Linked DNA regions of Homo sapiens: all the other regions are reported to be linked to region 3. Evidence: microRNA targets listed by miRTarBase, many of them from high-throughput screens and not tested one by one. Region 3 holds a microRNA gene; each other region holds the end of a gene's coding sequence.
What was found. The annotated mature microRNA hsa-miR-3121-5p reads UCCUUUGCCUAUUCUAUUUAAG and lies in region 3 at 3,392-3,413, opposite strand. An mRNA with a match to its seed (bases 2 to 7 or 8) in the 3' UTR can be bound and repressed. Matches are read on the target gene's strand: a 7mer-m8 pairs with bases 2 to 8, a 7mer-A1 pairs with bases 2 to 7 and ends in A, and an 8mer does both.

Region 1: the mRNA of REL is a reported target of hsa-miR-3121-5p. The part of its 3' UTR that is shown has no 7-base or 8-base seed match.
Region 2: miRTarBase lists BBS9 as a target of hsa-miR-3121-5p. Seed matches in the 3' UTR shown: 7mer-A1 at 5,516-5,522.
Region 4: the mRNA of INSIG1 is a reported target of hsa-miR-3121-5p. Seed matches in the 3' UTR shown: 7mer-A1 at 1,865-1,871.

What each region holds. Positions count from the first base shown.
Region 1 is chr2:60,921,463-60,928,607 of GRCh38, forward strand. REL (REL proto-oncogene, NF-kB subunit) reads left to right here. Exons shown (of 10, transcript NM_001291746.2): 10 at 301-7,145. The coding sequence ends at 1,073. Among named protein-coding and RNA genes, the nearest start is that of REL, 43 kb to the left of the region's middle.
Region 2 is chr7:33,604,215-33,611,214 of GRCh38, reverse strand. It overlaps BBS9 (Bardet-Biedl syndrome 9), which reads right to left. Exons shown (of 23, transcript NM_198428.3): 22 at 6,240-6,350; 23 at 5,146-6,020. The coding sequence ends at 5,989. Among named protein-coding and RNA genes, the nearest start is that of FLJ20712, 120 kb to the left of the region's middle.
Region 3 is chr1:180,434,967-180,442,133 of GRCh38, forward strand. MIR3121 (microRNA 3121) reads right to left here and starts at 3,424; the gene lies at 3,348-3,424. All of the region lies in intron 3 of ACBD6 (acyl-CoA binding domain containing 6), which reads right to left. It also overlaps the pseudogene VDAC1P4.
Region 4 is chr7:155,306,780-155,313,946 of GRCh38, forward strand. It overlaps INSIG1 (insulin induced gene 1), which reads left to right. Exons shown (of 6, transcript NM_005542.6): 6 at 1,462-3,456. The coding sequence ends at 1,491. It overlaps LOC105375592 (a long non-coding RNA gene), which reads right to left. Exons shown (of 3, transcript XR_007060612.1): 3 at 3,414-6,227. Among named protein-coding and RNA genes, the nearest start is that of INSIG1-DT, 11 kb to the left of the region's middle.

The sequences.
Region 1 (7,145 bases), not on the chromosome of region 3:
CCTTTATAGAGCCTCAGAAACTAGATTTTCATATTTAATTGAAGTGAAATTACATATGCCAAAGTAACTTGCCAAAATCATTTTACCTGTATTTGTAAAATGGTATATACGTTACAGAATTTCATTTTGGATTCGTGTAATAATTTTAGTGCTTTTTACATTTTTTTATTTGAAATGTTACATTGGTTTCCTTGACATTTTTCTTTATATATATTTGTGTGCTTATGCAATTTTAATTTAGAAATGCTTTTTATAATTTTGTTCATTTTAATTTCGTAAAATAAATTTTTCCTCCCACAGAACCAAACTTGTTTTCTCATGATGCAGTTGTGAGAGAAATGCCTACAGGGGTTTCAAGTCAAGCAGAATCCTACTATCCCTCACCTGGGCCCATCTCAAGTGGATTGTCACATCATGCCTCAATGGCACCTCTGCCTTCTTCAAGCTGGTCATCAGTGGCCCACCCCACCCCACGCTCAGGCAATACAAACCCACTGAGTAGTTTTTCAACAAGGACACTTCCTTCTAATTCGCAAGGTATCCCACCATTCCTGAGAATACCTGTTGGGAATGATTTAAATGCTTCTAATGCTTGCATTTACAACAATGCCGATGACATAGTCGGAATGGAAGCGTCATCCATGCCATCAGCAGATTTATATGGTATTTCTGATCCCAACATGCTGTCTAATTGTTCTGTGAATATGATGACAACCAGCAGTGACAGCATGGGAGAGACTGATAATCCAAGACTTCTGAGCATGAATCTTGAAAACCCCTCATGTAATTCAGTGTTAGACCCAAGAGACTTGAGACAGCTCCATCAGATGTCCTCTTCCAGTATGTCAGCAGGCGCCAATTCCAATACTACTGTTTTTGTTTCACAATCAGATGCATTTGAGGGATCTGACTTCAGTTGTGCAGATAACAGCATGATAAATGAGTCGGGACCATCAAACAGTACTAATCCAAACAGTCATGGTTTTGTTCAAGATAGTCAGTATTCAGGTATTGGCAGTATGCAAAATGAGCAATTGAGTGACTCCTTTCCATATGAATTTTTTCAAGTATAACTTGCAAGATTTAAATCCTTTTAAATCTTGATACCACCTATATAGATGCAGCATTTTGTATTTGTCTAACTGGGGATATAATACTATATTTATACTGTATATATAATACTGACTGAGAATATAATACTGTATTTGAGAATATAAAAAACTTTTTTCAGGGAAGAAGCATACAACTTTGGACATAGCGAATACAAAATTGGAAGCTGTCATAAAAAGACAACTCAGAGGCCAGGCGCAGGGGCTCACACCTGTAATCCTAGCACTTTGGGAGGCCAAGGCGGGTGGATCACTTGAGACCAGGAATTCGAGACCAGCCTGGCCAACATGGTGAAACCCCGTCTCTACTAAAAATACAAAAATTAGCTGAGCATGGTGGTACGTGCCTGTACTGTCAGCTACTTGGGAGGCTGAGGCACAATAATTGTTTGAACCCAGGAAGCAGAGGTTGCAGTGAGCTGAGATCACACCACCGCACTCCAGCCTGGGTGACAGAGTGAGACTCTGTCTCAAAAAAAAAAAAACAAAAAAAACACACTTTTTTATATTTCTTTTTATAATGTTTTAATGTATTCTTAAATTTCAAGCAAATTTAAGATAAAACTTGTAATGGCTATGCCATTGAAAAACTTAATTTTTTATTTTTGAGGCCCATGGGCCAAGGTAACCCCTAAGGGGTTTTCTTAGGCTTCTTGGAGCTTAGATTTGTATGTATATCAAAATGTCTTTAAAATGTTAAGTTGGGCAGAAGGCAGTTGAAGTGAGCTTTCAAGGTATGGGAGGTTTTCTACATTTTATACTATTTCAATCTATGCCTTTAAAGTTGCTTATGATTTTAGCTGTACACTCATTTTTTAAGGGGAAGAAGTTTCCTTGGACCATTCGCCTTTCTTAGATGTCCTCACTCCCTGTGATCTCATAAAACTGCCTATTTGACATCTCTATCTAGAAATCTAATTAAAGCTCACACTCAGCATATCCAAAACTGAATTCTTGGTCTTCCCTCCCAAACTTGCTTCTCCTTCAGTCTTCTCCAACTCAGTAAATGGCAATGCCATACTTCTGGTTGCTCAGGCCAAAAACCCTGAAGTCATCCTTGATTCTTCTTTTAGCACCCATATCCAATCCATTAGCAAATCTGGTAGACCCTACCTTCACAATATATCTAAAGCTGACCACCTCTTTTGACCTCTACTATTAACGCCCTATTCCAAGCCACCATCATCTCTTCCCTGGATTGAAGCTGTCATCTACAAAAATTCTTCTTATATCCTTGCATTCCTACAGTCTGTTCCCCATAAAGTAGCCAGAATGATTATTTTTAAAACAAGTCAACTCATACCATTCATCTGCTCAAAACCATTCATTGGCTTCTCATCTCACTCAGAGCAGTCAAAGTCCTTAAAAGTTGCAGGCCTAGACTCCCTGTCCTACCTCAGGTACCACCATATCCCACCTCCTCATGCAGCTCCAGGCACCTTGGCCTCAGTGCTCCTCAAAGCATCAAGTATGCACTTGCCTTGGACAGTCTGTACTTGGTATTCCCTCTGCCTTGAATGTTGTTCTCCCAGAAAAATGCATAGTTCACTCTTACATCCTTCAGGTGTCACTCCACTGTTACCTGAGCAGGTCGTCCTTGAATATATACATCAGCATTCCCTTTCCCCCCTGCTTTATGTATGTCCATAGCACTCACCACGATCTGACTTTACTAAGTATTTATTCATTTACTGTTTGTTTTCCCATACCGAAATATAAACTTTCTAAGGACAGAAATTTTTGTGCTTTATTGTTGAATCTCCAATTTGTAGAAAAATGCCTACCTTATATTAAACACTCAGTAAATGTTTATTGAACATTAAAAGTATTACTAATAGAACTTTGGTTTTTGAAAGAAATAATAACTTTAATTATAAGACGTATATGATTTTTGCAGTTTTACTTAGTGTGACATTGGGTTTATGAGAATCGTGTACATTCAAGTCCAGGAATAATAATGGTCATCCAAATTGTTTGAAAGGAAAATAATCCCAGTGGCAAAATGATGGTAGAATTTGGGTAATCTTTTTTTTCCTTTTATGAAAAGAGATTTTATTGAAGGTAAAACATTAGAGGTTCATTGAGAATCTCTAAATCCATGTTTTGACATTGTCAAGCTCATTGCAACTTCCAGATTGAGTAACACTTATAACACATTTCCTTTTCAAAGTGCAAGATTTTTAAAAGAGACTTGTCACATATTCATTTGGCTGGTTTCAAATGGTGAGCTGAATGCTGGGTAATCTCTACTAGCTCCTTAATCAGATTTAAAATTCTCAGTGTTTCCTAGTTGTTTCTGCATACTTTATGTGAGTTGTTATAGCTGTAACATTACACTTTATTTGCTGTTTGTGTTTCGTGACTTTTGGTAATTCTGGCATTTAGAAACCTTTCACTTTGCTTCAAAACGTAGTTATATTTTGGAGTTTTCATTTGATATATAATTATTTATTTTGCCCTTTTATTTCCCAAAGACATTGTAAGGGTTAATTAGATCATTATATTTTATTATTACAGATTAAAGTTGGGCAGTAATCTTAATTATGATGGAATTATCATTATGCTAAGTAATTAACTTTACCTAGTTTGTTTTACAACTAGAACCTGCCCTAAATGTTGAATATCTTCCTAGCAAGAAACAGTCTGTCATTTTACTTACACGATGTCTAACCAAACCATAACTTTACATAAACTAGTCGTTTCGGTCAAATAGAAAAATGTGTGAATGCCATAAAAACAAAAATTCTCAGTTAAATGATACTGGGAAATAGGGAAGACAGCAAAGTGAGACTTGGGCTCAGGATGGTTCAGGAAGAAAAAAAAAGAAAGACCCCTGAGTACCATTAATATTCCTCAGAAATTATTATTTCAAAAGGAAATATTTCTGTATTATAAATTTTTCATGAGCAGCCATTATGAAATCTCACAAGAATCATAGAATTCAATAAAAAAGGTAGAAAGTAATTTTTTTACTTAAAAATATAAATTAAAATAAATTTTTAAAATCATAAGCACATAAATAGAACTTACCAGGGAGAAAGAAAAACCTGAAGGCACAATTTCTTTTCTGTTCAAAATGTGAACCCAGGATGTCTCTAGATGATGATGGATGATAGGTGGGGAGATTTTTTTTTTTTTTAATACAGAATCTCATAGTTTTGGATTAATTAGCACCAATCAGTTTAAACACTGACTGTTAGAATAGCTGCATGGGTTTTTTTCTTTAAACTAATTAAGCGTTGGCTACTTAGTATAAGTAAGTATAAGCCGAATTAAGGTTCTGCTACATCTGTGTTTAGAATATTTTTTTAAAACTAAATAAGTGTTGGCTAGTTTTGCGGTGTAAGCAGAATTAAGGTTCTGCTACCTCTGTGTGTAGAATATTCCCAATGGATTTTTCATTTTTCAGGTGCTATTTTTTGACCCTGTATAGACTTTAATTTAAAATGAATTTGGTAACGTTTCTCCTCTGTCTCTACATATATTCATGCTTTCACCTGCTCTTTTAACACCTGCTTTTAGTATCTGAGGCACTTTTTCTGAACTCTACTTGTGCACTGGATCCCTCCTCCTTTCTCTGCCAGGCTGTGTTTACTTTATCCTTACATCACCACTTAGTGATTCCTTTCTTTGTATAAACATGGTAAATGTCTTCATTAGCCTAAAAGGAAAGACCAAATAAAACCTTTCCTACCACTTGGATGCATTTGCATCCTGACTTCTGAAATGCCTCCAGCCTCCATTTTCTCCCTTCCCAGTTATTCCTTAGCCCAGCCATCTCTGTCTTTAGCTCCTACAATTTTCTTAGGATATTCTGGGAAAGATGAGCGGAGACTGCCCGCCTTGTCAAATCTAGTGTCTTTTTTTCAGTCCTCACACTGCTTGACCTATGTATAACCTCCTATACTTCCCTCTTTGCATACTCCTCTGGGTTTTCTGTGGTAGTCAAGATTCCTCCCTGAGATTTATTTCCCATGAGTCTTGACCCCTCCCCTCAGTTGGTGCTATTTCCCCCTACCCGCCCTCCGATGATCTTATCAGAGCCCACAGGTTCAGTTTTCTTTCATGCTACCTGAATGTCCTGATAAACTGGCTCGCTCTCTTCTTTACCTTCCATAATGGCATTACCATTTACCACGCCACCCAAGATACTTACTAGGAACCTCAAAGTATTGTATTCTTTTTCTCCATCACACTCATACTTAATCATCAAGTCCTTTTGAGCTTGTCTCCTCTTGAATATGTCCCTTCTTAATTCCTGCTGCCTTCTTAGTAAAGGCCTTCATTCTTTTTTCCCTAGTAATAATCTTTTCCATATGTTCCAGTTAAAATACCATGTTCTCCCTATTCCTTATTACATAGCTAGCATTCCTTGAAAAAAAACAATTCTCTCAGGCCTCCATACCTTTAGCATGTTACCCACTCTGCCTCTGCTCTTCTGGAACTAGAACACTCATCCTTGAAGGCTGGGCTTCTGTATGAAGGTTGGTCCTGCCTCCTTACTTGAGGTGAAGCTTTGTACATGCCTGTATTACGGACATCCTCTTATTTAAGTGTTTGTCTCTTTCGTCATTGGGACTCCAGCACCCAGCATAGTCCCTAGTATACTAGTTGGTGCTGAATAAATAGTAGCTATTATTAGAAAAGGAAGGGTGAAATTGACATGGGAGTTAGTAAAATGTATATGGAAATGATTTTTAAAGGGAAAGGTAATGATTTTCTGGCAGGAAAAGCAGCAATGACAAGATTACTTAAGTCTTGTGAAATAACACTTCTCTTCCTTGACCTGCTGCTTCCCTTTTTTACCACACACACACGCACACATACCACAGCCCTTTGAGACTGAAAGCAGCTCTATTGAGAATAGTAGTGTCAACTGTATTATGTAGAAATTCTAAAGTTTTTGGGATTATTTCATAGCCCTGACCTTGCTACTTCTCTCCACTTTATGTGGCAGGTTTAATCTCAGGTCTCCCTCATACACTTCTCAGCCTCAGCACCTAACCCTCACACAACACTCCAGTATTGATGCAGTCAATCTTGTATAACATTTTTTGAATGTCCAATGTGCAAAGCACGATGTTGGAAATTATACAGAGGTGAATAAGACAAAAACTCTTGCTCTCAAAGATGTCAGTCTTTTTCTTTGCAAGGATAACACATGTAGAGTAAAATGCATAAAGGGGACTAATTTTAAATGTACAGCTTAATTAATTTTTATGTATGTTAACACCCATGTCACCACCATGTTTAGGACATTTCCAGCACCCCTGAAATTTCCTTCATGCCCCTTCCCAGTCTGTACCTACACCTCTAAATCTATTTTCAATCTTAATGGCCTTTTAAATAACTGGGCTTCTCACAACCATAGTGAACAGAAACAGCTGGGTTGTCAACGTCTAACCTAATACTTCAGGAAAACTCATGATGGTTTCCATGTTAAGAGAGACATGGAGCAGGGCACTGGCATGGTGGATGGATCACGCCTGTAATCCCAGCACTTTGGGAGGCCGAGGTAGGGGGATTGCTTGAGCCCAGGAGTTCAAGACTAGCCTGGGTAATATAAGGAAAACCTGTCTCTGCAAAAAAAAAAAAAAAAAGAGGATACAACCAAATGGAAGAACATTCCATGCTCATGGGTAGGAAGAATCAATATCGTGAAAATGGCCATACTGCCCAAGGTAATTTACAGATTCAGTGCCATCCCCATCAAGCTACCAATGCCTTTCTTCACAGAATTGGAAAAAACTACTTTAAAGTTCATATGGAACCAAAAAAGAGCCCATATCGCCAAGTCAATCCTAAGCCAAAAGAACAAAGCTGGAGGCATCACACTACCTGACTTCAAACTATACTACAAGGCTACAGTAACCAAAACAGCATGGTACTGGTACCAAAACAGAGATATAGATCACTGGAACAGAACAGAGCCCTCAGAAATAACGCCGCATATCTACAACTATCTGATCTTTGACAAACCTGAGAAAAACAAGCAATGGGGAAAGGATTCCCTATTTAATAAATGGTGCTGGGAAA
Region 2 (7,000 bases), not on the chromosome of region 3:
TGACATCATGAACTTCTCTTTCTGGAACTGGTACCAGACGGAATAAACATGATTACTGTAGCCTGTTAAACAGAATTTCATCAATTTAATAGCATTTTAAACCTCTTCACTTTCTCCAATCTGATGATCCTGGAGCCAATGAAGCGGCTGGGCCCTCTTCAATCTGACAGCTTGCTGTGAACTTTTTATCTAAAACCGACCCTTCAGCCAACTGAGATACAAGACTGACTCAGTCCCTTTTGGGACAATTCATGGAGTGGCTGCTAAGAAATAAGCATTAGTAGAACTGTCCCTGAATGTATAAGGTGAAACATCTCTCCACAAAACCAAGACAGCGAACAGAGAATTGCTGTTTTGCTAGTCCATAAAGGTTTGCTGATATTTCTCAGGGAACAATTAATTACTAAAAATGAAAAGTAAAAGTGTACTTACATTTGAGCCCAAAGCTAGGTCGAGGCTCACACTGGCAAACTTAAGAAGACCTATAGTATATTTAAGGGAATTTTGAATACCTCCTTACTGTTATGGTTTGAATGTTTGTTCCCTCCAAAAGTCGTGTCGAAACAGTATTTAGAGGCGAGACTGTTAAGAGGTGATTAGGCCATGGGGGCTCTGCCCTCATGAAGAGATTAATGTCATTATCTTGAAAGTGGGTTCATTATCAAAAGTTGAATTTTGCCCCCTACTCCCTCTTTCTCTCTTGCCCTCTCTTGGCTCTTCTGCCACGCAAAGAACAGCATTGCTTCCTGCCTCTGGAGAATGCAAGGCGCCGTCTTGGAAGTGGGAGTTGGACCCTTACCAGATACCAAACCTTCTGGTGCCTTGATCTTGGACTTCCCAGCTTCCAGAATGCTAAGAAATTAATTTCTATTCTTTATAAATTACCCAGTCTGTGGTATTCTGTTATAGCAGTACAGAAATAAGACACTTACAAAATCTGCCCTTTCCACCCGCCACACTCATAGTGCTATCCCATACATATTTTGGAGTTATTTCAACCATGGAGGAAATTAACAAACCAATAATTTAAAGTGTAGTTTCTATTCTCTCTCTCTATCTCGCTCGCTCACTCTCTCCTGTTATAAACAGATTTACTGTGATGCTAATCAGGCTTAAACTTCAGGGCAGTTCCTTGCCCAGGTGTATGGTCATATGCTTTTGCACAATTTGAAAAAAGACATTTTAATCATGATTGGTGAAAACTACTGTCTCTTCTGCCTGTCTTCCCCTTGTAGCAGGCATTGGAAGGGTGGTGGCCTTGACAATCTGGCTAAAGGGAAGTTGAGTTGGGGAGACATTCAACTTGGGCTAACTGGATATATTTATGTGGATTACAGACAACTCTGTATATGGTTAAATTACTGATAGCTATTCTGCTGGAAGAATGGATTCCAGGAATATCATTACCACCCACTGCTCTCACTTAAGCCAGTGTCATAAGAGGAAGGTGTGGAGCAAAACGCTGTATCACTAAATAAGCATGTTCTATGCAGCCTGGCACCAGAAGCATAAATGTGTTGGAGATAAAATATGATTTGAAACATATGAAATCTGACGTCCTGACCATCAGACATGTAAAAGCAGAAGCAGTAAGATTCCAGTTTCATGGACCCCAAGTCAAAGGAGAATTTCTTGCCTGTTAAGAATATATTTAATAATTCAGAGTATACAATTACAAACTCATCATAAAATAACTTTCCCAATTAACTCCTATATAAAATGGATAAAAGTTATTCTGTCAATAAGCAAATTATAACAAAAACATTTTCAAATCATACCAAAATTAACTCATTAAGATGAGATGATACATTTGAAAGAGAATAAGCAGACTTTGGATTGTCTAATAATCTAGCTAATGAAGAAGAGTAAATCGCATGAACATATTCGAAAAATATTTAAATATCTTCTTGCTGATTTGAAATAAAATACTAGTGGTAATGAAGATCATTTCAATGAGGATTTTGATGATAAACTGGCTAATGAGTTGTCAATTTCCACAAAGACCAATGGAACAAAATAGTGAACCCAGCAATAAAGTCACACGCCTACAGCCATTTGATCCTCAACAAAGTCAACAAAAATAAGCAATGGGGAAAGGGATCCCTGTTCAATAAATGGTGCTAGAATATGTAACTAGTCATAGAAAGAAAAATAAAACTGGACCCCTATCTGTCATTATATACAAAAATTAACTCAAAATGGATAAAAGATTTAAATGTAAGACCTCAAGCTATAAGAATACTGGAAGAAAACCTAGGAAACATCATTCTGGACATTGGTCTTAGGAAACAACTTATGAGTAAGTCCTCAAAAGCAAATGCAACAAAAACAAAAATTGATAAGTAGGACCTAATTAACTAAAGAGCTTCTGCATCATAAAAGACACTATCAACAGAGTAAAAAGACAACCCATTGAATAGGAGAAAATATGTGCAAACTATGCACCCAACAAAGGTCTAATATCCACAATCTATAAGGAACCTAAACAAATAAACAAGCAAAAAACAAATAATCCCATTTAAAAATGTGCAAAAGACATGAACAGGCAAGCATTCAACAAACATGAAAAGATGTTCAACATCAATAATCACCAGAGAAATGCAAATTGAAGCCACAATGAGACACCCTCTCACACCAGTCAGAATGGCTATTATTAACAAGTCAAAAAACAATAGCTGGCAAGGCTGTGGGGAAAAGGAAATGCTTGTACACTTTTGCTGGAAATGTAAATTAGTTCAGCCACTGTAGACAGCAGTTTGGAGATTTCTCAAAGAACTTAGAACTACCATTCCACCTAGTCATCCCACTACTGAGTATATATCCAAAAGAAAATAAATAATTCTACCAAAAGGCATAGGTACTTATACGTTCATTGCAGCACTATTCACAATAGTAAAGACATGGAATCAACCTAGGTGCCCATCAATGGTGGACTGGATAAAGAAAATGTGGTACACGTATACCACAGAATACTATGCAGTTATAAAAAAGATCATGTCTTTTTCAGCAATATGAATGTAGCTAGAGGCCATTATCCTAAGCAAATTAATGCCAGAACAGAAAACCAAATACCACATGTTCTCACTTATAAGTGGGAACTAAACAATGGGTACTCATGGACTTGAAGATAACAACAATAGACACTGGGGATTACTAGAGGTAGGGAGAGGGGCCAAAGGTTAAAAAATAGCTATTGGGTACTATGCTTAGTACCTGGGTAATGGAATCAATTGTACCCCAAACCTCAGCATCACCCAGTATACCCAGGTAAGAAACTTGCATGTGTACCTCCTGAATTTAAAATAAAAGTTGAAATTATCTAAAAAAAAAAAAAGAGAGCTATCAATTGCATGGCTATTTAAAATGTATCACTGCATAAGAAAAATTAAAATGCCCTGATAATATAATCCTAAAAACCTGGCTGACATTACAAATGATGAGTTGTAAAGCTGAAAGAAGCTTTTGCAAACTATCAGTAATTTTTTTTAAAAAAGTCTGATCAACAATTTCAGAGAAAAAATTATCTTTTAATTCACTGTATACAAAATGAAATTACAAATTGTCTATAATTAAAGAAGTGAATAAGAAATGTGTGCAAGAAAATGCAGAATTGTTAAAAAGGTATATCAAGTAGTTAATATAAATATTTGTATAGATTTTGTGATATATATGGTGATTATCAGCTTTTTACAAATGTGACTTGTTATTCTTTTCTTATTCTAAATAAATGTTCATTTTTGTAACTAATGTTGTATTAGAATTTTTATTCATCTTATTTAAAACCTGAATCCTGTGTTTAAATCAATGTTACCCAAGTACTCATGAACAAAATCATTAAGTATTGAATTTTCAAGATTCAAATCTCTCTTCAAAGCCAAATTTAAGAAAAAATAGTAGGACAGTCACATCAGCTTCCTCTCAGCATAAACTGAAATACTAAATTAGGAAGGTTAGACCACAATGTTCTAAATCACCGGCTTCTCCATTTCTCTATGACTTGTTGACTTCTTTTAGGAGATTAGTTGACCTTTTGATACAACAAATATTTACCAAGCAGCGAAAAGAATCCAAGAACAGTTATGTCCAAGGAGCTTGCAAATCTATCCTACCAGGAAAGGAAAACATGACTTCTGAAATACAATAAGTAAGAGAGAGGTATGTAGAGAGGCATAGAGTTCTCCAGGGATTCTAAAGAGCGGAAGATGAATGCCAAGAAAGGTGATTAGGAGAACCTTAAGAGGAGACAGTGGGACTATATTCATTTCCCCATTCCATTATAGAAATGATTTAAGGGGCATATAAGAGAGACACAACAAGAGAGAATACACTAAATGTTGAAGCAAAATAAAAAGACAAAAACGAGGAGAATATAATAAAGGGCCAGAAAATAGGGCTAAAAGTACAGTCCATGATGCCTTGTCCACTTATTCCAAGAGGACCTCGAATGTGGCTCTTGGTGTAGGGATAAGGAGATAATTGATTCAAAATGAGCCTTGAAGTGAAGGGTTGGGGTCTGAGTTTACAATTAAAATGAAATGATGGCAAAAAAATCTGGGAAGTAGGGTGTTGGTAACGTTTTCCCCACATTAGCCAGAATAGAGACCCTCTCTGCTCCAGACATTAAGCACTGGGGAAAGTGGTTATTCCAAGAGGCATCTTACTCTGATTAGGCCTTGGCAGTTGTGCCGTACCATAAGTTATATATTTTCCAGTCCAAAGCAACAAAACCCTTAATGCATGTAATGTCCACATAGCTTCCATAGTTCACCTGCTAAAACATAAAAATAATGCCAGCTAATTCAACACTGCATAAATCACAAGGCCGTTGAGAAGACAGCATCCAATAGAATCCACACAGCCTTCTGTTGCTCTTTCAGAACCATCTCTATAATTGTTTTTGTATTTCACTGATAGGTTTACTTTTTGACATAAAGGACTTAAAGAGAAAATGATAATTTCAGTAAAATTTTATGCTCATATCATGGCTATAAATGATCATAATGATGTTATTTTGATAATATATCTGCATCTCCTAAAAGAGGATGCTACAAATAATAAGTAATACATCCTCTGCAGTTTTTTTTTGACATTTCACATATAGAAAAACCATGAACAACTTTCCCCTTTGTACTGAGAGGCATTCCAAAACTGGCAAAGGCATATTTTTATTTAAATAAATCAATCTCACAACTGTAATTCGAACTTGAAATTAGCAAAGTTTCTTTCACTTCTTACACATAAAAACCTTAAATTTTAACTGTAATAAAGTGTGAATCCTTTAATAACCTGGATTTTTAAAAGGTGCCACCCAATGGGGTAATGAAAAGGGGATGTTAATGTACTAGCTTCCTTGAAAATATTTAAACATTTTCATACAATACTAGAAAACTTCCCTTCTTCCACGTTTAGCTTAATAGAACAAATCACATGAAAGTTTCATAGTGGTTCTTTTATTTATAAAATAATCACATTCAAGTCTTACCAGAGAGTAGCAAAGTCTTCAATTCCTTTCCTTTCCTTTGAAGAAATAATGTAGAGCAATCACTCATAAATCCCTCTAATTATAAATAAAATCCAAGATATTATTTGACAATGAGATGCTTTATTAAACTTGATACATTTACTATATAAGAATTCTGTGAAAAAATGGGGTATGAAATTATTTTGGATCTGAATCTTTGCATTATAAAATCTAACCCAAAACTATGTCATTTCACTGTATTCTGTGACTATTAGCAGATGGATGACCAAAGGCAACTACTTCCTTTCCTGGCAAAACAAGACAAGTTTCAGCTGACTTCCCCATGGTGTTACAAGTTCTCCTAGTGAAGTAAAAAGTCCCAACCCCTCTTTCTATGCATGTCATCTCCAGGAAGGTGAGCTTTAGGAAGCACCTGCGCCAGCCCTATATCTGTGCTTGGCATGAGGTTCACACAGGTTCGGCCTTGAGATGGGGATGTTCCTCTCAACCAAACAACTCTACTTGAATTATTCCGAGACTCCTTGGAGGGGTGAAACTTCTGGAAAAAAAGAGAGTAAGAGAGAAAGAGAGAGAAAAGATCTGAATAGTGACAGGAATACACAAAGGATCAAATTCAGCTGCACCAGTGCTAAGGGGAAGAATGAAGAAATTGGAAAACAAGCAGCTTTGCGGAATGCTCTCTGGTATGACAAAAACTGACCAGATTGTCACTGCTTCTGACTTAACTAACGCTTGTGAAGGCCATCCAGTCTCTTACCAGGCCTGGGTGTCTCTGCAGTGAGATGTCTGTGGTTGGTAAACAGTTCTGTAGAGTCTTGTTCTACTGATCTTTCTTCTAGGTCTGACTCTGGGATTGTAGTACAACCACCTAGTTGAAAAATACAAACAATATTTTAAGCAATGTGTAAGAAAATCTGCCTCTCTACACAGCAATCATAGCTTAGGAACACACTGATCATAAAGATAATAAATGACGTGACAACAATCTTCAGGAGTGGCCTGAAAAGAATAACCTTAAATGTTTCTTTTTGGTGAGAATACTGGGAATGAATTACTGCCCCTAAAGACATATTATACTGATTATGACTTGGCAACAGCAGCAACAGTATTGTCTTTAAATTTATCCTTTTTAAAGTCAGAAAGGACAAAACCTATCCTATAGCATATGTGATATCCAGAATATAAAGGCCCCTCGGCAGGAATTCCCTTTAATACCAGAGCATCAGAAACTATAAAAGAAGCAAAGCACATGAACCATGAGGGAAAGAAGCCTTCCTTGAGGAAAGAGAAAGGTTGCTGGTGTTCTGGGACGGTGGTTGTGGTGGTATTTCTCTGGAATTTGATTCTATTCCTGAATCCCAACACCTTACAGCACAGACACAAACACTTCATAATTCAACAGCAAAGTCATGAACTGCATTGTGGAAGATTTCAATCCAAAGGTGACTTGAGGATGAGCTGGCACTGCTGTGCTTTTGAAGTACTGGGTATAACTCATTTGACTTTATCCACCAAAAT
Region 3 (7,167 bases):
ACCAAGTACAGATGGACTGAGTACGGCCTGACGTTTACAGAGAAATGGAACACCGACAATACACTAGGCACCGAGATTACCGTGGAAGGTCAGCTTGCACATGATCTGAAGCTTACCTTCAATTCATCCTTCTCACCTAACACTGGGGAAAAAAAAGCTAAAATCAAGACAGGGTACAAGCAGAAGCACATTAACCTGGGCTGCGACACGGATTTCAACATCGCTGGCCTTTCCATCTGGGGTACTCTGGTGCTGGGTTACGAGGGCTGGCTGGCCGGCTACCAGATGCATTTTTTTTTTGAGACGGAGTCTTGCTCTGTCGCCCAGGTTGGAGTGCAGTGGCAGGATCTCAGCTCACTGCAAGCTCCGTCTCCTGGTTTCACGCCATTCTCCTGCCTCAGCCTCCCAAGTAACTGGGACTACAGGCGCCCGCCACCACGCCTGGCTAATTTTTTTTTTTTTTTTTTTAGTAGAGACGGGGTTTCACCGTTAGCCAGGATGGTCTCAATCTCCTGACCTCGTGATCCGCCCGCCTTGGCCTCCCAAAGTGCTGGGATTACAGGCATGAGCGACCATGCCCAGCCTGGATGAATTTTGAGACTGCAAAGTCCCGAGTAACCCAGAGCAACTTTGCAGTTGGCTACAAGACTTATGAATTCCAGCTTCACACTAATATGAATGACGGGACAGAGTTTGGCAGCTCCATTTACCAGAAGGTGAACAAGAAGTTAGAGACCGCTGTCAATCTCGCCTGGACAGCAGGAAACAGTAACACGCACTTCAGAATAGCAGCCAAGTATCAGATTGACTCTGACAGCTGCTTCTCGGCTAAAGTGAATAACTCCAGCCTGATGGGTTTAGGATACACTCAGACCCTAAAACCAGGTATCAAATTGACACTGTCAGCTCTTCTGGATGGCAAGAACGTCAATGGTGGTGGCCACAAGCTTGGTTTAGGCCTGGAATTTCAAGCATAAATGAATACTGTACAATTGTTTAATTTTAAACTATTTTGCAGCATAGCTACCTTCAGAATTTACTGTATCGTTTAATGTTGTACGTCTGGAATGCAAGTATTGCTAAATATGTTAGACCTCCAGGTTAAAGATGATTCAGCTTTAAGATGTTACCCTTTCAGAGGTACAGAAGAAAACCATTTCCAAAAAAGGTCCTTTCAGTGGTAGACTTGGGGGTAACTTGGTGGCCCCTTTGAGATATCAGGTTTCTTTTTTATCTAGAAATGGCTGCAAGTGGAAGCTGATAATATGTAGGCACTTTGTAAATTCATATTGAGTAAATGAAAGAAATTGTGATTTCCTGAGAATTGAACCTTGTTTATCTAACCCTAATTGATGAGAAGCTCACTACTTGATGGTGTGTACAAACTCACCTGAATGGGATTTTTTTTAGACATATCTTCATGACCTGTTCCCACCCCAGTTCATCGTCACCTCTTTTACACCAAAACGTCTGCAGAGTGGTGTGGTCACGATTCTTTTGTGCCATTTTGGGGTGGAGAGGGTGGACGTGATAAAGCCAATAATTCAGGACTTATTCCTTCTTGCGTTGTGTTTTTTTGCCCTTGCACCAGAGTATGAAATAGCTTCCAGGAGCTCCACCTATAAGCTTAGAAGTGTCTGTATGATTGTAATCACATGGTGACAACACTCAGAATCTAAATTGGACTTCTGTTGTATTCTCACCACTCAATTTGTTTTTTAGCAGTTTAATGGGTACATTTTAGAGTCTTCCATTTTGTGTGGAATTAGATCCTCCCCTTCAAATGCTGTAATTAACATCACTTTAAAAAAACCTGAATAAAATATTGAAACCTCAAAAAACAAAAACAAAAACAAAACTACCTCAAAATAATAAAGGCCATATATGAAAAGGCCACAGTTAACAACATACTCAGTGGTGAAAAACTGAAAGCTTTCCTTCTAAGATCAGGAACAAGGCAAGGATATCTATTCTCATCACTTCTATTCAAGATGGTATCCAGGCCAATGTTAATGCTATCATATCTCCTTAAAGGATATAAAATCAAGCTATAACCCCATCAGCTTGGGTACATGTTCTCAAGACCTTCTGAGGCTGTGTCATGGGTCATGGTCTTCACATTTGGTGCAGAATAAATCTCTTCAAATACTTTGCAGTTTGGCTTTTTTCCCTCGACATCTTCATCTGTATCCTTTGTAACATCCTTTATAATAAACTGGCAAATGTGTTTCCCTGAGTTCTGTAAGCCACTCCAGAACTCAGTTGAACCCAAAGAGGGGGTCATGGGAACCACAACTTGAAGCCAGTTGGTAAGAAATTCTGGAGACCGGGGCTTGTGACTGGTCAAGGGGTGGGAGGCAGTCCTGGGGACTGAGTCCTCAACCTGTGGAATCTGACACTATCTCTAGGCACCTAGTGTCAGAACTGATTAGGAGGATACCCAGTTGGTGTCTGCTGCAGAACTGCTCACATAATGTTGGGGAGAAATCCCCACGTATTTGGTCACAGAAGTCTTCTGTTGTTGTAGTGGTATGAGAGCAGAGGAAAAACACAGTTTGAAAGTTTTTCCTAAAATGGCATCCAAATTGGAAAGGAAGAGGTAAAGTTATCTGTTCACAGACAACAAGATTTTATATGTAAAAAAATCCTAAAGATTCCACCCAATCTGTTATTCAGCAAAGTTGCAGGATACAAAATCGTCACACAAAAATCAGGTTAGGTCTGACAGAGACAGACAATAAATGAATAAGTTTTCCAATATTAAAACCTAAGGAGTATTATGAAGAAAAAAAACAGGTCCAGGAACAAGGTTATAATTTGGAATAAGATGGTTAGGGAAAGCCTTCTAGAGAAGGCCCTTTGAATAAAGACAAAGGAAGTGAAGAAGTGAGTCTTGCAGGTATCTGGAGTAGATTGTTCCAGCCATAGGAAAAAGCCAGTGCAAAGGCCCTATGATGAGGGTATGCACAGAATGTTAGAGTAGGGGTCCCCAACCCCTGGGCTGCAGGCCAGTAGCAATACATGGCCTGTCAGGAACCTGGCCGCACAGCAGGAGATGAGTGGCGGTTGAGCAAGCATTACCACCTGAGCTCCACCTCCTGTGAGATCAGCAATAGCATTAGAGTCTCACAGGACTGTGAAGACTATTGTGAACTGCACATGTGAGGGGTCTAGGTTACGCACTCCTTATGAGAATCTAATGCCTGATGATCTGAAGTCAAATGGTTTAATCCTGAAACCATCCCCCTCCAACACTGGCCCCCTAATCCCTGCTGCAGAAAAATGGTCTTCCACTAAACCAGTCCCTGGTGCCAAAAAGGGTGGGGACTGCTGTGTTAGAGAACTTAAAATGTTTCTGTCCTTTGCCTACTCTATTTAAGGTACAGGGTGTCTTAAATAGAATAGGCAAAGGACATAACCATTTAAGAAGCAATAAGACAAGGTTGTTCATGAGACAATCATAGCTTCTATTGGCGCCATTCATTGACTCTCTTAAAGTGAAATAGACAATTGGGAAGAGATAGCTATGGTCCACTTGGTAATTATTTGCTGTGAAATAAAGACTACTAATTAAGAGTTACGTGGTAGTTCAAAAAAAATAAGTATAGTTCTTTTTTCTTTTTTATTTAGACTTCTTTTTAAAGCAAGTTTAGGTTTACAGAAAAATGAACAAAAAATAGGGTTATCTCATACCTCTCACATGTATACAACTCTCCCACCCACTGCCCCCATTACTAACATCTTGCATTGAGTGGCACATTTGTTACAGCTGATGAGCCTATATTAATACACTATTATTAATGAAAGTCCATAGTTTACATTAGGGTTCACTCTTGTATTGAACATTCTATGGGTTTGACAAACATATAATGACATGTACCCACCACTGCGGTACCATTCAGAATAGTTTCACTGCCCTAAAAATCCCGTACTCTACCTATTCACCCTTCCCTCCCTCCCCACTCTCCTCCATACTCTGAACCCACGGCAACTAGTGATCTTTTCACTGCTTTGTTTTACTCTTTCCAGAATGTCAAATGATTAGACTCATACAGTATGCAGCCTTTTCAGATTGGCTTCTTTCACTTAGCATTATGCATTTAAGGTTCCTCCATGTCTTTTCATGGTCTAATAGCTCATTTCTTTTTAAAAATTTTAAATTATTGTAAACATAAAATTTACCATTTTAACCATTTTTGGTATTTAACTCAGTAGTGTTAACTATATGCTCCTTCCCCTGGCCCAAAACACAAGATTTTTCTTGACTCTTTACCGTAAATGGGATTCTGGGAGATAAAACCTACCAAAGTGGAAGGCCCTACTAAGACTGGGGAGGGGCCGGGTGTGGGGGCTCACGCCTGTAATCCCAGCACTGGGGGAGGCCGAGGCGGGTGGATCACAAGGTCAGGAGATCGAGACCATCCTGGCTAACATGGTGAAACCCCGTCTCTACTAAAAATAAAACAACAACAAAATTAGCTGGGCATGGTGGTGGGCGCCTGTAGTCCCAGTTACTCAGGAGGCTGAGGCAGGAGAATGGTGGAACTCAGGAGGCAGAACTTGCAGTGAGCCAAGATTGCGCTACTGCACTCCAGCCTGGGCGACACAGCGAGACTCCGTCTCAAAAAAAAAAAAAATACTGGGGAGGAGTTTTTGACTCCCTAGTCCACACTCAGCCTCAAGCAATTCATCCATTACCATTGAAGTGTTTCTACCAGTTTATGGCCCAAGCATCTTCTGTTATCTTGGTTATGATTCTCTGTATTCACCTGTCTCTCCAGTTTTGGGGATGGCAGTTTGAACTGGTACCTCAATCTCTGATGGATCTAGAACAGTCTTTGATTTTCAGTTTGGTCAGATTACTGTTATTGTTAAGGAGAGGAGTGATAACTTGCAGGTTCTTCACATGTTGAGGCTGAAACTGGAAGTTCAGTGATCTTTTAAAGAGATTTTAAAATTTAAAAAAAGTCTTTAAATTTACCCATATATTTAGCACTTCCAGGACTCTTCATTCCTTTATGGAGGTCCAAATTTCCATCTTATATAATTTTCCTTTCATGTGAAGTTCCTTTAAAATTTACTATAGTTCAGTTCAGTTGGCAATGAATTACCTGCTTTTGTTTATTTGGAAAAAGTTTTTATTTATTTATTTTTATTTTTTAGATGAAGTCTCACTCTGTGGCCCAGGCTGGAGTGCAGTGGTGCAATCTCAGCTCACTACAACCTCTGCCTCCTGGGTTCAAGTGATTCTCCTGCTTCAGTCTCCAGAGTAGCTGGGATTACAGATGCCCACCATGACACCCGACTAATTTTTGCATTTTTAGTAGAGATGGGGTTGCAATGTGTTGTTCAGCCTGGTCTCGAACTCCTGACCTCAAGTGATCTGCCCATCTCAGCCTCCCAAAGTATTGGGATTACAGGCATGAGCCACCAGATCCAGCCTTGAAAAGTCTTTATTTCACGTTTACTTCTTTTTGTATTGACATGAGATTCACATAAAATTAACCAGTTTAACATGTACAATTGAATGACATTTAATACATTCACAATATTGTGCAACCAACTGCATCTAGTTCCACAACATATTTGTTATTCCCCCCAAAAAGCCTTGAACCCACTAAGCAGTCACTCCCCATTCCCCTCTCCCCCAAACCTTTAGCCTTGAACCCACCAAGCAGTCACTCCCCATTCCCCTCTCCCCCAAACCTTTAGCCTTGAACCCACTAAGCAGTCACTCCCCATTCCCCTCTCCCCCAAAACCTTGGCAACACCAATCTGCTTTCTGTCTCTATGGATTTAACCATTCTGGATATTTCATATAAATTGAATCATACACTATGTAATCTTTCATGTCTGGCCTCTCACTTGGTTTAATGTTTTCAAGGCTCATCTATATTATAGCATGTATCGGTTCTTCATTCCTTTTTATGATTAATAGTCTATTATATGTATACAACAATGCCAAATTTTGCTTATCCACTCATCAGTTAATGGACATTTGGGTTGTTTGCACTTTTGGCTATTGTGAATACTGCTGCTATGATCATTTGTATACAGGTATTTGAGTACCAAATTACCCAGCAATTCCACTCCTGTATATACCCAAAAGAATTGGTAATTCTATTTTTAACTTTTTGAGGAACCACCAAACTGTCTTTTATGGCAGCTGCACCATTGTACAGTCTTAGCAGCAATCTAAGACAGTTCCAATGTCTCTACATCCCTGCCAAAACTTGTTATTATCTTTTTTATTGCGGACACCCTACTGGGTATGAAGTGGCCCTGTTGAAAATCAACTGACCATAAACTTGAGAGTTCATTTCTGCACTCTCAATTCTTTTCCATATGTCTATCCTTATACCAGTACCATACTGTTTTAATTACTGTAGCTTTATAGTAAATTTTGAAATTGCAAAGTTTGAATCCACTAGTTTTGCTCTTTTTCAATACTTTGACTATTTGGGGCCCTTTGCAATTCCATATAAATCAGATTGACTTGGACAGCGCTGCCATCTAAATAAAATTAAATCTTCCAATCCATGAACACAAGATGAATTTCCATTAACTTAGGTCTTCTTTAATTTCTTTCGGCAATATAGTTTTCAGTCTAAAATCTTTCACATCCTTGGTTAAAATTCCCAGGTTTTTGTTTTTAATTCTTTTAAAGGCTATTGTAAATGGAATTTTTTTGTTTGTTTCCATTTCAGAGTATCCGCTGATGGTCTAAAGAACACAATGATTTCTGCATGCTGATCTTATGATCTTATATCTTGTAACTTTGCTGAATTAACATACTAACTCTAGCGGTGTCTTTGTGGATTCTCTGGATTTTCTATATACTGTGTAGGATCATGTCACCGATTAACATTTTTATTTCCTCCTTTCCAATTTGGATGCTGTTTCTTTATTTTTCTTGTCTAATTGCTCTGGCTAGAATTTATGTATACAATGTTGAACAGGAGTGGTGAAAGCAAGCATCCTTGTCTTATTCCTGATCTACCTCTGGGTTTTTCATAAATACCCATTATGTTAAGTAAAGTTTACCTTCATTTTTGAAAGCTATTATAACTTAACTGAGTATAGAATTACAGGTTGGTCGTCTTTTCCTTTTGTTGTCAACCTATTGACTTCAGATTTCTGAAAAGAAGTCTGCTGTAGTTCTACCTT
Region 4 (7,167 bases), not on the chromosome of region 3:
GCATACCACACTGCCCTTTCAACACATAGCTCGCACCTGCCTTCACCCTGGAAGCAGGTTTACAGCAGCCTGTGTTGGTGTCTGGGTTGCCATTTACAATGTGCCACCATTAGGCAACACTGCTGGAAGTCCCTGTGCCACGTGTCAGGTCCGCCCGGGCTGGCTGTCGTTCGTCTCTGGCGTCTTTGCCAGGCCTCACTGTGGCCTCTGTCGACCAGGGATTCTAAAAGTCCACTTCCCATTTATTTATCAGCACATTAGTGAACAGGGAGTCAAATGTGATGACCAGTTTTCTTTCCAGGTTGCTGCCAAGAGTTTGCTCTTTTGTTTTCTCACCGCAGTTTGTATAGAACCCTCCCAGTGTTCATATCTAAAAATTGGCAGTGCTTTCACATGATCAATTCCTAAAAGCATGTATGTTTCCTAGAAGGTCTTATTGTGTGTGTCCCCAGGGTAGTAACTGGCATACCTGGGTGACTCAACCCAGACTCATGACTTTCTTACCTGTCTGTTCAGATGAGAGGCTCTTGCTGTTTTCTGGATGAGTAATCTCCGTCATTGCTGAAGGTGAGGAGCTCAGCTCCTTCCTCTTAAAGTGAGTGGAGGGCAATTAAGTAACGTGGGAAGTCACGATTCTGAGGGAAAAAAATTCTGTATGGAGGTTTCTCTTTTGCCCTTTAGCAGAAGCTCCGTGGCCTCAGGAAGGTCATTTAATCTCTCTGGCTTTGCTTCTTCATCAGTGAAATACTGTTCTCCATTAAGAATTTACCCTGAGGTGCCTGGTCATAGTAGTAACTGTAGTGTCTACCTCTCAGAAGCTCTGTGAGGGTCAGATGAGGAAGAACATGTAGAAAGGATTTCCCAACTGTGAAGCTCTGTGTGAATTGAGGGCACACAGAGCTTCAGTATTACAAAGCATGACCTATTTCCAATGTCTGTTTCAACAAACTGCTGGTAAGGTGGGTTATAACACAGGCATCAGATACTAATAAAGGTTTGTGGCAGAAACCTCCCTTCAGATAAAGGTTCAATCCCTTAAATTGCAGTTAGAACTTTCAGGAACCTATCATACCCTAAGCATCACCATGCTTTGATAAAATTGGGTGTTTCCTTTATATAGATATTAATTTAGTTAAACTTTCACCAATATCTTACACTTATATAACAGGCTTTATATAAGGGCCTCAGCAGCGTAATTTCACCTGAGGCAGAGAATTATCCTAATTTTGCAGGTGAGAGCTGTGGCTCACGGGGCCAGAGCCATGAAGACGGTGCAGGGGAGCTGGGAGAGCTGGCCTCGGTCTCCAGTTCTCTGCACATGTCCCACCTCTCAATCTTGTTGCTTCAGTCAAAGAAAGTGTCAATCTTTCCCATGTTAGGACCTACTTAATTGGTAATTAAAATATTTATACATTTAGTGCTAATTTTCTCTTTCCTTTTTTTTTTCCTTTCTACACATAGGGTGTTCCTGAAAAGCCCCATAGTGATTGAGTCTTCAAAACCACCGATTCTGAGAGCAAGGAAGATTTTGGAAGAAAATCTGACTGTGGATTATGACAAAGATTATCTTTTTTCTTAAGTAATCTATTTAGATCGGGCTGACTGTACAAATGACTCCTGGAAAAAACTCTTCACCTAGTCTAGAATAGGGAGGTGGAGAATGATGACTTACCCTGAAGTCTTCCCTTGACTGCCCGCACTGGCGCCTGTCTGTGCCCTGGAGCATTCTGCCCAGGCTACGTGGGTTCAGGCAGGTGGCAGCTTCCCAAGTATTCGATTTCATTCATGTGATTAAAACAAGTTGCCATATTTCAAAGCCTTGAACTAAGACTCAATTACCAACCCGCAGTTTTGTGTCAGTGCCCAAAGGAGGTAGGTTGATGGTGCTTAACAAACATGAAGTATGGTGTAATAGGAATAATATTTATCCAAAAGATTTTTAAAAATAGGGCTGTGTTTAAAAAAAAAAACAAAACAAGAAAAGCAGCAGTGATTATAGAGAGGTCACACTCTAAGTGGGGTCGCGGCGTGGCCACGCTTCACGGTCACGCTCGTCCGTCCTGCAGTGGCGTGTTTACATGGTCACACGTGTGTGTATCACCAGTGGGTCAACTGCTTGTCATTCCTCCCGTGGCAGTTTGTGTAGACAATCTTACTGAGCAAAAGGCAATGAAAAGTCTTGGTTCCCACACTGCGATATATTGGAATTTTCACCTCAGTTTATGAAGTTTATTTCGAAATCCATAGTCATCTAAGAATGAATACCTGTCTGCCATGTATTTCAATCTTAGTGAGCCAAAATTGTTTGTTTGTTACTACAGAATAGAGATGACTGTTTTTTGCCACAGCCCTATGGAATTTGCAATCTGTGATTGCCTTGTAAAAAGGAGAGTGCATATGGCACTGCATTAAACGTGTGGTGTTTCTAGTCAATGATATTGGTGAGCACAATGTATTCATTTAATGGCATAGACCATACCAGACCTAATTTGCAAGTATTGGGTCTTAAACTTCAAGTGCAATGTATATGAAAACCAATCTGAGCCTTGTATCTCTTAAATATTTATTTTTTTTAACGTGTGAGATGTTCGAGAGAAGGTTCTCCATTCATTTCAGTGCTGCCTGGAGGAAACTCGGCAATGATTTCTTTCAGTTGTGAAGTTCCTTTCGTGTTACACCCTCCACTGAACCCTCAACCTTCGAAATACTCCAGTTTTGTGGGTTTGGTCATTTTTACTTATAAATTTACCTTTTTGTATTTTGCAATTTACATGTGTTTGGTTTGTTTTAAATTCTGTGAAAGTGGCTTGATTAAAAGACTCCTTTTAAATGGAAGCCACCAGTCAGCAGAATGGAAGCTTAGAGGAACTTGCCTGTGAGCGCTGGTCTTTGTGTTTGGTTTTGTGATGTAACGATCTTTGCTGGGGTTTTTTGCTTTGTTTTGAGGGAAATGTCTTGGAGTAAATTTTAAGTTCCTGGAGTTAATTTGTTTTACAGGAATTTTGTTTTTTAAAAAAATAGGATCATTCTGAACTTTGGAATGACCCCCTTATATATTTTCTGAAAATGAAAACAGTTACATGAAAAAAATTTCCAATGAAGATGTCAGCATTTTATGAAAAACCAGAAGTTATTAGATGAAAGCAGCGAGTGAATCTTTAAAACAGACTTGATCACGCACACACAATAAGTCTTTCTCTCCGAAACCGGAAGTAAATCTATATCTGTTAGAAATAATGTAGCCAAAAGAATGTAAATTTGAGGATTTTTTTGCCAATAGTTTATAGAAAATATATGAACCAAAGTGATTTGAGTTTGTAAAAATGTAAAATAGTATGAACAAAATTTGCACTCTACCAGATTTGAACATCTAGTGAGGTTCACATTCATACTAAGTTTTCAACATTGTGTTCTTTTTGCATTCATTTTTTACTTTTATTAAAGGTTCAAAACCAAGTGTTGTATTTATGTTTGCTTTTTAAAAAACAGTTGGGGTGGTGGTCTCTGTGTAGGATGTTAGAATTTGTAATGGAGAAATATTTTGCAGTTCTTCAAATTTTACTGAATTTTGACACAACCTCTTGGGAAGTATTTGAATCATCCTTCAATATACACAGGACATTGGTTCCAGGATACCCCACGTATGCGAAAATCTGCATACTCAAGTCTGGCACTTGGCCCTACGGAACCTGCGTACACTAAAAGTCAGCCCTCCGTATACGTGGGTTTCACATTCAGCAAATAAACCATGTTTGGTTGGAAAAGCTCCATGTATATAAGTGGACCCACAGGTTCAAACCCTGTGTTGTTTAAGGGTCAACAGTATGTGTTTTTCTTATGGTAGAAAGTTTTAAGTGCAGCACGAGCTGAATTGAACCTGCCACCTTACCCCTCCTCACCACAGGCACCCGGTTTTCAGGCAGGAGGAGCGGGCATGCCTGGCCTGTCACAGGGGCAGCTTCCCTGCTGCCAGCCGGCGTGGCTGGAGTTACTTGCACTCACAGGTTATCACGATGGGATGAGAACTGAAGAGATGCGTTGAGCACCAGGAACATTAATGCTAGGCAGGCTTCACATTACTTGTAGTTGTGAAATCGCATGTCAGTACTAGCAGAGAAAGGCCTTACCTTATATGTACCAATCCATTTTATAACACAGATCCAAACCAATAGGTTTCTACTACATTTAAAACATGAAACATCCATGTATGGAAAAACTGGTAGATCTCATGATAAAAACATTTCCCTCATTACAGAGACTTGAGGTTTGCCTGAGATTAACCCAATTTATGTGGATCAAGTATAGGAATGCCTGCTGAACTAGTCTAAGTTCATGTTTATTCGTTTTTTGAGACAGAGTCTTGCTCTGTTGCCCAGGCTGGAGTGCAGTGGTGCGATCTTGGCTCACTGCAACCTCCGCCTCCTGGGTTCAAGCCATTCTCCTGCCTCAGCCTCCCAGGTAGCTGGGAATACAGGCATTCACCACCACACCTGGGTAATTTTTTTGTATTTTTAGTAGAGATGGAGTTTCACCATGCTGGCCAGGCTGGTCTCGAACTCCTGACCTCAAGTGATCTGCCCGCCTCGACCTCCCAAACTGCTGGGATTGCAGACGTGAGCCACGGCGTCTGGCCTATTCATGCTTTAGAATAAGTTTTGGAGGTTAAACGTTTCCTGGAATTTTTCTGATCTATTGAGCAAGTGATGGAATGAAACCATTTCATTAAGGGTAAGGTGTGTAATTTACAGAAGATTTCCTTGTTCACGTCTTTTCAACTGAATGAGCAAGGCTGAGTAAATAGGAACTCAAGATAGATTCAAAGATGTTTGTTTGGCTAGTTTTAAAAGCCACCTGTGATCTTAACCTAAGCAAGATTTCCGGCAGATTGGTTTAAATGAATTAGATATAATCATTTGGTGACCTGGCACTCTCCCTATCCTTGAATTATAGACATTTCCTTTATCCTGGTGGTAAAAAGAAACGAGAGAAGGGAGCAATTATAAATCTAAACTTGCCTTTTCTACTTTACCTGTTAAAACAGACCTTTTACTAAGAATGTTCACTTTCTCAGAGTTTCAGATCATCTCTTTGTAATAATGTAACTTTAGCATACCCTTCTAGGGATATTCTCTTTGAAAAGTGTTAATGCTGTAAAATATTAATAAAGATACTAAAATTTAGCCTTAATGTATATTATGCAATAAGCTGACCTAGTCCTCACTAATCCACCATTTTATTTACTCTTGGACTGAGGTGAGCTTGTAAGCAATAAATTAGTCACAGGAGGGATTGCATATTGATCCCTAAATGTAGTCAAAATATGCAAAGAAAAAGGTGCATGAAATAGATCCAAGTCCTAATACCCAAACATAGTGCCCTGCAGACTTTATACATCTTGGTAAGATTCATACCTGAAGAATGGCTTCCCTGAGCATTTATAAAAACACCTAATAGTGCCTGGCACAAGATAAGCTCTCAATAAATGTTACTTTCTCTTCTTGCCCCAGTTTTCTCAGGGAAGAATAAACGGCTGAGATCGTGCGTTAGGTATGGTAGTGCCAGTCTACGTTTGTAGTCTTCAAGACAAATGGTCACATAACATGAAAAGTGGTTTTTTTATTACTATTTCCACGTATTCGACACTTAATTTTTCTGAGTGCTTTGACACCCTTTTTTCCTCATTGTTCTCCACGTTCCCAAGTTCAGGAACAGAAGGAAGATGAAGTCAAAAGCGCTGGGTCCACAGAAGTAATTTCCTCATCAGAACCTAGCTCTTCGTATTTTTTTCTGTGTCTTCTCTCAGGCAAGTTTTTCATTTAAAATCATAGGTGTCTTCCAGTTCATCCCTCAGACCTCACCAAAGGGTCATCCCTGGCTCTCCTCTTCACATCAAACCTCCCAGAGTTCCTCCGGGCTGCAGAGCCCTTGTCACAGTGGCCACCAGAGTGGGCACTGTCAGGCTGCTTTCCTCCCGCAGGCCAGATTCCCGGCAGAGAGGAGCCGCCTCCTTGCTTGTCCTATCCTGGTGCCTCGCCACAGCCTGGATCCTGCTTCATCACACGTGTGTGCTGGAAGCGTGTGAAGAGATGACATCCCCCACTTGGTCACTGGCCATCCAGGAAATATTTCTGGGTGCCTATCATGACAGAGGCAGGCACATGGGCTGTCCCCAGTCCCATCCTGTTGCCAACAGCCCTTGAGTCCCCTTCTGATTTGTGATCTCCAATCTGTGGGGAATGAGATAAATAAAGCTGTTAGAATCAATCATACAATGAAAATCTGGGTCAAGATCCAGGGAGGACTCCTCCAAGTAGAGTGGATGAGTTTCAGTGGCAGGATTTGTTTTAACACCAATACGAGCTGTTACAGGATTAGGGATTCTTTTTCCCAGGAATGGGGTTGGAAGTGTGCTGAACCGTCCACACCCTCCCGCCCCACTGCACTGGTGCCCGGCATCTGCTTGTGGGTGGCCAGTGTGACACCCACAGGCCCAGGAGGAAGCACCCCACGGGCAGCACCAGTACAGAGTCCTTGAATCCCTCAGAGCCTTCGCCCATTCCCACCTGCCAGCCTGCCCTTCCCGGGTACACACTGATTCCTCAGAAATTCCATCTTTTCAAGGAGGAAGGCTGCTTGCTTCGGTATGTGATATCTGTCCCTGCCCTTCAAATTAGGTCTCATTTGCCATCAACTGCTTTCAAACCCATCCCTATTTTCTTTAGTGCCCAGGGGCCTGCTGACCCAGGCTAATGTGGACATTTGGCCTCCCCTTTTCTCCTCATTCTGCATCAATCACGTTAGTTGCAAACACCCAGCTAGGGCAGGGTGCATGTGAGCAGATGACTGCGAGAGAAAGATCCCAGGGTCAGGAGGGTAGCAGTGTCCACGGACCTGCACCAACCTTGCTCCTAAAAAGCCACTTCCTACCGCCTGTTCCCTGTCCTTGCCAGCCCAGGAGTGGTGTGCGAGCCTGCGTGTAATCAATCCCCCTCCACAAGCCCGGCTTGCTGGGCCGGCTCTGGGGCTTCCTGCCTTTGCCTCATCACACACTGCTCTTCATGTCTTCCTCAAACATCCAGCCAGCTGTAGGAGCTGCCTGAAGAAAGGTCAGCATGCCAGCAAATTATGTGGAAGACCGTTTCAGAGTTTAACGCATCCACCAGGAGG